2 linked regions of the Homo sapiens genome follow. The protein of the gene in region 2 purifies or fractionates together with the protein of the main gene of each other region. This does not show direct contact. Each region holds a gene or a part of one and is shown on either strand. Other genes may lie near its edges. The genes, in order: SHPK and THYN1.

Region 1 (3,824 bases), on a different chromosome or scaffold from region 2:
TCTGTGCAGGCTGGAATCCTGAAGGCATGGAGGCTGCCAGCTGAACCGAGGTGCTGATGTTGAGAACTGGGGTCCGAAGAGAGCAGAGCTTAGGCCTGTCGGGCTAACTCAGAGGTCACAAGTCACAGTTTGGCAGTGAGAGGGGGTGGCCTGTCGGGTTAACTCAGAGGTCACAAGTCACAGTTTGGCAGTGAGAGGGGGTGGCCTGTCAGGCTAACTCAGAGGTCACAAGTCACAGTTTGGCAGTGAGAGGGGGTGGCCTGTCGGGCTAACTCAGAGGTCACAAGTCACAATTTGGCACTGAGAGAGGGTGGGGTTTTAAAAATATGTCCAGGATAGTTAGAAGGGCAAGGTGTTGAAGAGATGTTGATCAAAGGAATTTTTTTTTTTTTTTTTTTTTTGAGACAGAGTCTCGCTCTGTCACCCAGGCTGGAGTGCAATGGTGCGATCTTGGCTCACTACAACCTCCACCTCCCAGGTTCAAGCAATTCTCTGCCTCAACCTCTCAAGTAGCTGCGATTACAGGTACCCACTACCACGCCTGGCTAATTTTTTTATTTTTAGTAGAGATGGGGTTTCACCATCTTGGCCAGGATGGTCTCGAACTCCTGACCTCATGATCCACCCACCTCGGCCTCCCAAAGTGTTCGGATTACAGGTGTGAGCCACCGTGCCCGGCCGATACTCCTCCTTTCAAGAGGTAGAACCTGATTCCCCTCCACGTGAGAGTGGGCTGGACTTAGTGACTCACTTCTAGTGAACAAAATAAAGCACAAGAGACAGTGTGTGCCTTCAGAGGCTAAGTCATAAAAGGCACTGCGACTCCTATCTCGGTCACGCTGTCTTGTGGATCACTTGCTCTCGGGGAAGGCAGGTGCCACGTCGTGAGCAGCCCTGTGGAGAACCTCACGTGCCAGGGAACTGAGGCCTTCTACCAACAGCATCAAGCGTGGGCTCAGAGGCAGATCCTCCAGGCTCAATCAAGCCTTTGGAAGACTGCAGCTCCAGAGTGAATGCAACCTCACGAGAGACCTTGAGCCAGGACATCCCACCCCACTCAGAATCCTGACCCTCAGAAACTGTCCAAAATAATAAATGTCTGTTGTTTTAGGCTACTATGTATTAGGGTAATTTGTTACACAGCAAAAGAAAACTATGACAGGGTAAGACCTCAGACCAAGGGCTTTAGTCTCTGAGGAGGTTTCATTCATTGGCAGTGAATACTACTCTTGCTCATTTCCAAAGTATTCTTTTTGTTGTTGCTTTTGTTTTTGCTTTTGTTTTTCAGACAGAGTTTTGCTCTGTCACCCAGTCTGGAGTGCAATGGCGCGATCTTCGCTCATGCAACCTCTGCCTCCCAGGTTCAAGTGACTCTCCTGCCTCAGCCTCCCAAGTAGCTGGGATTACAGGCATGCGCCACCACGCCCAGCTAATTTTTTGTATTTTTATTAGAGGTGGGGTTTCACCATGTTGGCCAGGCTGGTCTCGAACTCCTGACCTCGTGATCCACCTGCCTCGGCCTCCCAAAGTGCTGGGATTACAGGTGCCCGCCACTGTGCCCAGCTAATTTTTATATTTTTAGTAGAGATGGGGTTTCACCATGTTGGCCAGGCTGGTCTCGAACTCCTGGCCTCAAGTGATCTGCCCACCTCAGCCTCCCAAAGTGCTGGGATTACAGGTGTGAGCCAATGCACCCGGCCAAGTTTTTCTTTAATCAGATCTGGTGTCGTAAGTGGGATCTGAACCCACCCACCTCACGATGACCTCTGGGAGCAACAAGCAAACGGGCATAAGTACCCACTGAGCCTTGGCACTCACTGCTTCCTGCTGCACATTGGGAGGCCTTCTCCAGTAAGCCCTCTTGGACATATGAACTCCACAACTTGTGTTGAGTTCACTGAGTTATTTGGGCATTTTTAAATCTGGACTGGGTTTGGAAGCCATGACAGAAACTGGAACAGGTGCTGAAGGGAAGCTTCAGGTGTCCAACTGGGTCAGACAGAAACTAAATTGGGTTTAGTAAAAGACCTCCAGTAGAAAAGGTTCCAGGAAGACAGAAAATAATGGGTTTACTTAAATTCAGGGAGTCTGAGACTCCATCTCAGAACATTTGCTTTTCTAGATAAATGAGTGAATCTTACCAAAAATAATTTAGAATTTTGGTGGCCACATAAGGAAGTTTTAACCTAAACAAACAAACAAACAATTCCAAACACCTCAGAAACAATGGGATATATTTTTGATTGGCAGGTAAAAGTTTCTGACCTCTCTTTCTTTGTACCTTCCTCTCCCTACACTGAATCTGCTGACATTTTTGCCTGTTTACCTCCTACCCCAAAGTCAAAAAAAAATTAAAAAGGAGAACTAGATAACTGTTTATAAAAGTCAGGCTCTCAGATTAACCAGATCTGCTTTTTAAGCATTCTTATGCCTTCGTCAAAATCTTGAGCTCAGAGCAATAATGAAAGATATCCCTGTTTGGCATAAAAAATGCTTTGTCTGCCCTATCAAAATTGTTTTGTCTTGCTTCTGCAAATACTTTATGAAAATTTCCCCTCTTGCCTCTCCTGGCAGAGTGCTAGGAGTCTGGTGCTACCATGATTCACAAATCACTGCATCTTCAAATAAACTCTTTGTTTGTTTGTTTGTTTTTGAGACAGAGTCTCACTCTGTTGCCCAGGCTGGAGTGCACTGGCGCGATCTCAGCTCACAGCAACTTCTGCCTCCTGGATTCAAGCAATTCTCTGCCTCAGCCTCCCGAGTAGCTGGGATTACAGGTGCCCACCACCACACCTGGCTAATTTTTTGTATTTTTAGTAGAGATGGGTTTTCACCATCTTGGCCAAGCTGGTCTTGAACTCCTGACCTCATGATCCACCCACCTCAGCCTCCCAAAGTGCGGGGATTACAGGTGTAAGCCACCGCACCCAGCCAAATAAACTTTTTAAAATTTAAATGTACTTCTTCTATCCAACATTCAATCCTTTTTTAGCTATGTGTATATACCACATTATAAAAATTCATTCATGGCTGGGCACAGTGGCTCACGCCTGTAATCCCAGCACTTTAGGAGGCCGAGGCAGGTGGATCACAAGGTCAAGAGATCGAGACCATCCTGGCCAACATGGTGAAACCCTGTCTCTACTAAAAATACAAAAATTAGCTGGGTGTGGTGGCGTGCGCCTGTAGTCTCAGCTACTTGGGAGACTGAGGCAGGAGAATCACTTGAACTCAGGAGGCGGAGGTTGCAGTGAGCTGAGATTGTGCCACTGCACTCCAGCCTGGGTGAGAGAACAAGACTCCATCTCAAAAAAAAAAAAAATTCATTCATTAGTTGACAGACATTTAGATGGTTTATACTTTTTGGCTATTATAAGTAATGCTGCTGTGAACATCTGTGTACAACTTTTTGTGTGGATATCATTTGTTTTCAGTTCTCCTGGGTGTATTTCTAGGAGCAGAATTGCTGGGGCCTGTGGTAACTCCACGTTTAACATTTGAGGAACTACCAGCTGTTTTCCAAAGAGGCCGTACCTTTTTACAATCCCACTAGCATGTTCTCACTTTTTTTTTTTCAAGTTTAATCATTTTGTATATAAGCACTGATTTTACAAAACATAGTATATAAAGGCAAACTAAATTTACATAACTTAAATTGTTATTTTTTTTTCTGCCTCTAGAGATGATGCCTTAAGAACAACTCAATTTGTTCACGTAAATTGCCTTCAGCCTACGTTGCAGCTAAGATGTGTGTAAGATTTTACATGTATTTTGGAAGAAATCACACAGAAGAAGCTGCTTTTTCAATAAACGTGGCCAGCTTC
Region 2 (2,895 bases):
AGCAGATTACTTTATCACCTAGATTATTCATTCAGCTAATCCTCATAATTAGCAAGGATAACAAGGTAACACAAGGCTTACTTACATTCACCCAGCAAAAGTGTCTCTGTGGAGCCACTTCCCGGTGAACTACATACTTCCTCTATAGCCAGTGGCCCCTCTCATTTTAGGGGAAGGAACTGTCTGCTTCCATATGTGCTTACTAACTGGCCAAGGATTGTTTAATGATTGAATTTATTTCCTCTTGCCTAGTTCAGCATTGAGGATCTCAAAGCACAGCCCAAACAGACAACATGCTGGGATGGTGTTCGTAACTACCAGGTAAGAGGGTAAGGAGGAGGTCGCCTGAGACCCAGGTGGGATGAATGCCTGCCTCCTCCTCATGACGTACTCAGTAGCAGAACCTCTTGGCCAAGGTTGCTTTTTCTCAGAAGCAAACCTGATAATGTATTAAAAAATGCCTTAAGTACTCTGCATGAAATTTTCAATTGGCCTGTGTTCTGGCCAATGTCCTGGTAAAAGTCTGGGTGTCCTGGCAAAGGGGAAGGACTTTCTAATGAATTGAGGAGTTGCAGACAAGAATCACCCATCTATTAAAAGCAGACTTGATTTCTGCTAAAAGCTAGTACTTTCCAGCTGGTGGGAGGATAGTTACTCTTTCTTCTCCCGGGACAGGCTCGGAACTTCCTTAGAGCCATGAAGCTGGGAGAAGAAGCCTTCTTCTACCATAGCAACTGCAAAGAGCCAGGCATCGCAGGACTCATGAAGGTTAGTTGGGCAGGTTTTGGTGTGAATCCCTTTTCCTCCAGGGAGACTAACTTAAGTAGATATAAAGGGATATACCTTAATTAGGCAACAAAAAAGTACACTCCCCCCCACCCCATCCCCCTTTTACAGGAATAGGGAAAAACTGCCCTGGCCCCTTCCTATCTGATAACTCAAAGCAGGCCTTCATTCAGGTCCGACTAGCACAGACTTCACTCCACCTCTAAGTCTTGATCTCACTCGAAAACAGGCCTGATGATAGCTCCTCCAAGCTTATCAGGATAAAATTATTAACTGTGCAGAGGGGAAAAAAACAGTGGTACCAGTAATAACCTTTGCCATTTGTTTTTAGAGCATGTTTTTAAGACTTTTGTAAAAACAGAGTTGATTTCCTAGTCTATATATTAGACTATATATTGTTTCCAAATATCTGAGCCCCCATTGGCTGTACAGCAAGGCAGATGGGTTAAGAATGTGCAGGGAAGAAATGAAAGTTGGATATGGATTAAAAGATTGGCTGTGGAGCTGACTGCAGGCAGATGATTCAAAGCTTTTGTTTTGGTTTCAGATCGTGAAAGAGGCTTACCCAGACCACACACAGTTTGAGAAAAACAATCCCCATTATGACCCATCTAGCAAAGAGGACAACCCTAAGTGGTCCATGGTAAAGACTATGCTTTCTATTTCATGACAGGGGAAGGATGAACCAGGGGAAGAAGACGGTTGGGGTGACTGTAGGTCAAGGTACACGGCCCAGCACTTACTCAGATGAGGTGATACTGAGATAGGAGCTTCCTGTGGGCGGTTAAAAATACAGTGGGCACAGTCAGCCTAGACACGTCTTTCTGTCATGTACACTGTTGTCACATAGGTGGATGTACAGTTTGTTCGGATGATGAAACGTTTCATTCCCCTGGCTGAGCTCAAATCCTATCATCAAGCTCACAAAGCTACTGGTGGCCCCTTAAAAAATATGGTTCTCTTCACTCGCCAGAGATTATCAATCCAGCCCCTGACCCAGGGTAAGAGTGGGCCCTCTCCTTTATTGTCCATATACCAGAATGACCTCATGAATTCCCACTTACTAGCTGATTAAACTTGGGCATGGTACTTCACCTTTCTCAGTCAGCATCCTCACCTGTAACACCCATGAGGGAGGGAATGTGGCCAGAGTTACCTGTTACTATTACCCAGTACTCTATAGTGCTTGGCACCTGGTAAATAGTTTTGAACGAATGACTGCTCGCCTTAGTACCATGTAAGATGTACCTGTGCCTGGCACAACTTTCCTGTTCAAGAGGGGACATTAAAAACTAATCCTTCCTTTTTCCCTTTTTTTTTTGTAGAAGAGTTTGATTTTGTTTTGAGCCTGGAGGAAAAGGAACCAAGTTAACTGAGATACTGCTGCTGGAATGGGCGAGACATTGCTGCAAAGAAGTCAAGCTTTTTTCAGACAAAAGGTGTGAGGGGGCTTGCTTGGTATGCTTACCTGGGCTTGTGTACCTCAGTGGTTTTTGTGTACTTTTTTCAATAAAATATCAAAGTTGAAGAACTTTTCTTCTAAAACCACACTGAGTGCAGTGGGATACTCCCCACTGCAGACCTCTTACCTCCAGGCGGGCTCCTTTGGCCGCTCCCAGATGCAGAGCTGCCTCCACCTTCTTTCTTTACGATCACTAGTAGTTCTGTAGCAAATTGCATGACGTAGGGCTGAGATCCTCAGTCTGGTAACACCCACTGGAATGAACTCTTCTTTCTACACCAGCCTTGCTCACCTGCCCCTTTCATCTTCTGGGTCCCACAGAGGTTTAAACCATCCCATGAGCAGTTCTGGATAAACTGCCAGATAGGGATAAGAACTGAATTCATTTCTCAGCCATGTGCTTGTCTCAAACAGGTGGCTAATAAAGTATTCATCATTTTTCACCCGGGGCTATACAGTGAGAGCACAGGCACTATGTAGGGAAATCAGGGCAGGGATCTGTCTTTCCCTGAGTGTCGGAGTTGGGACCATGTAAGACGGAAGAGACCACAGAACTTGGTGGACCGTGGGCACAATGCCTCCAAAGCCACAGGGGCTTTCTTTAATCAGAAAGACCATTAAAACAAACGTTCTTCTTTTAATACAGC

What was found.
Region 1: the proteins of THYN1 (region 2) and SHPK purify together in Homo sapiens (affinity purification with mass spectrometry; 2 studies listed by BioGRID and IntAct, with this or other methods). This does not show direct contact.

Annotation. Positions count from the first base shown.
Region 1 is NC_000017.11:3,615,472-3,619,295, forward strand, and holds part of SHPK (sedoheptulokinase), read right to left. Parts: exon of another isoform or gene 3,593-3,824; intron 67-3,592; coding exon 1-66. UniProt on the Homo sapiens protein: Acts as a modulator of macrophage activation through control of glucose metabolism.
Region 2 is NC_000011.10:134,247,701-134,250,595, reverse strand, and holds the end of THYN1 (thymocyte nuclear protein 1), read left to right. Parts: intron 1-252; coding exon 253-321; intron 322-675; coding exon 676-768; intron 769-1,333; coding exon 1,334-1,429; intron 1,430-1,636; coding exon 1,637-1,787; intron 1,788-2,111; coding exon 2,112-2,158; 3' UTR 2,159-2,314; downstream 2,315-2,895. UniProt on the Homo sapiens protein: Specifically binds 5-hydroxymethylcytosine (5hmC), suggesting that it acts as a specific reader of 5hmC.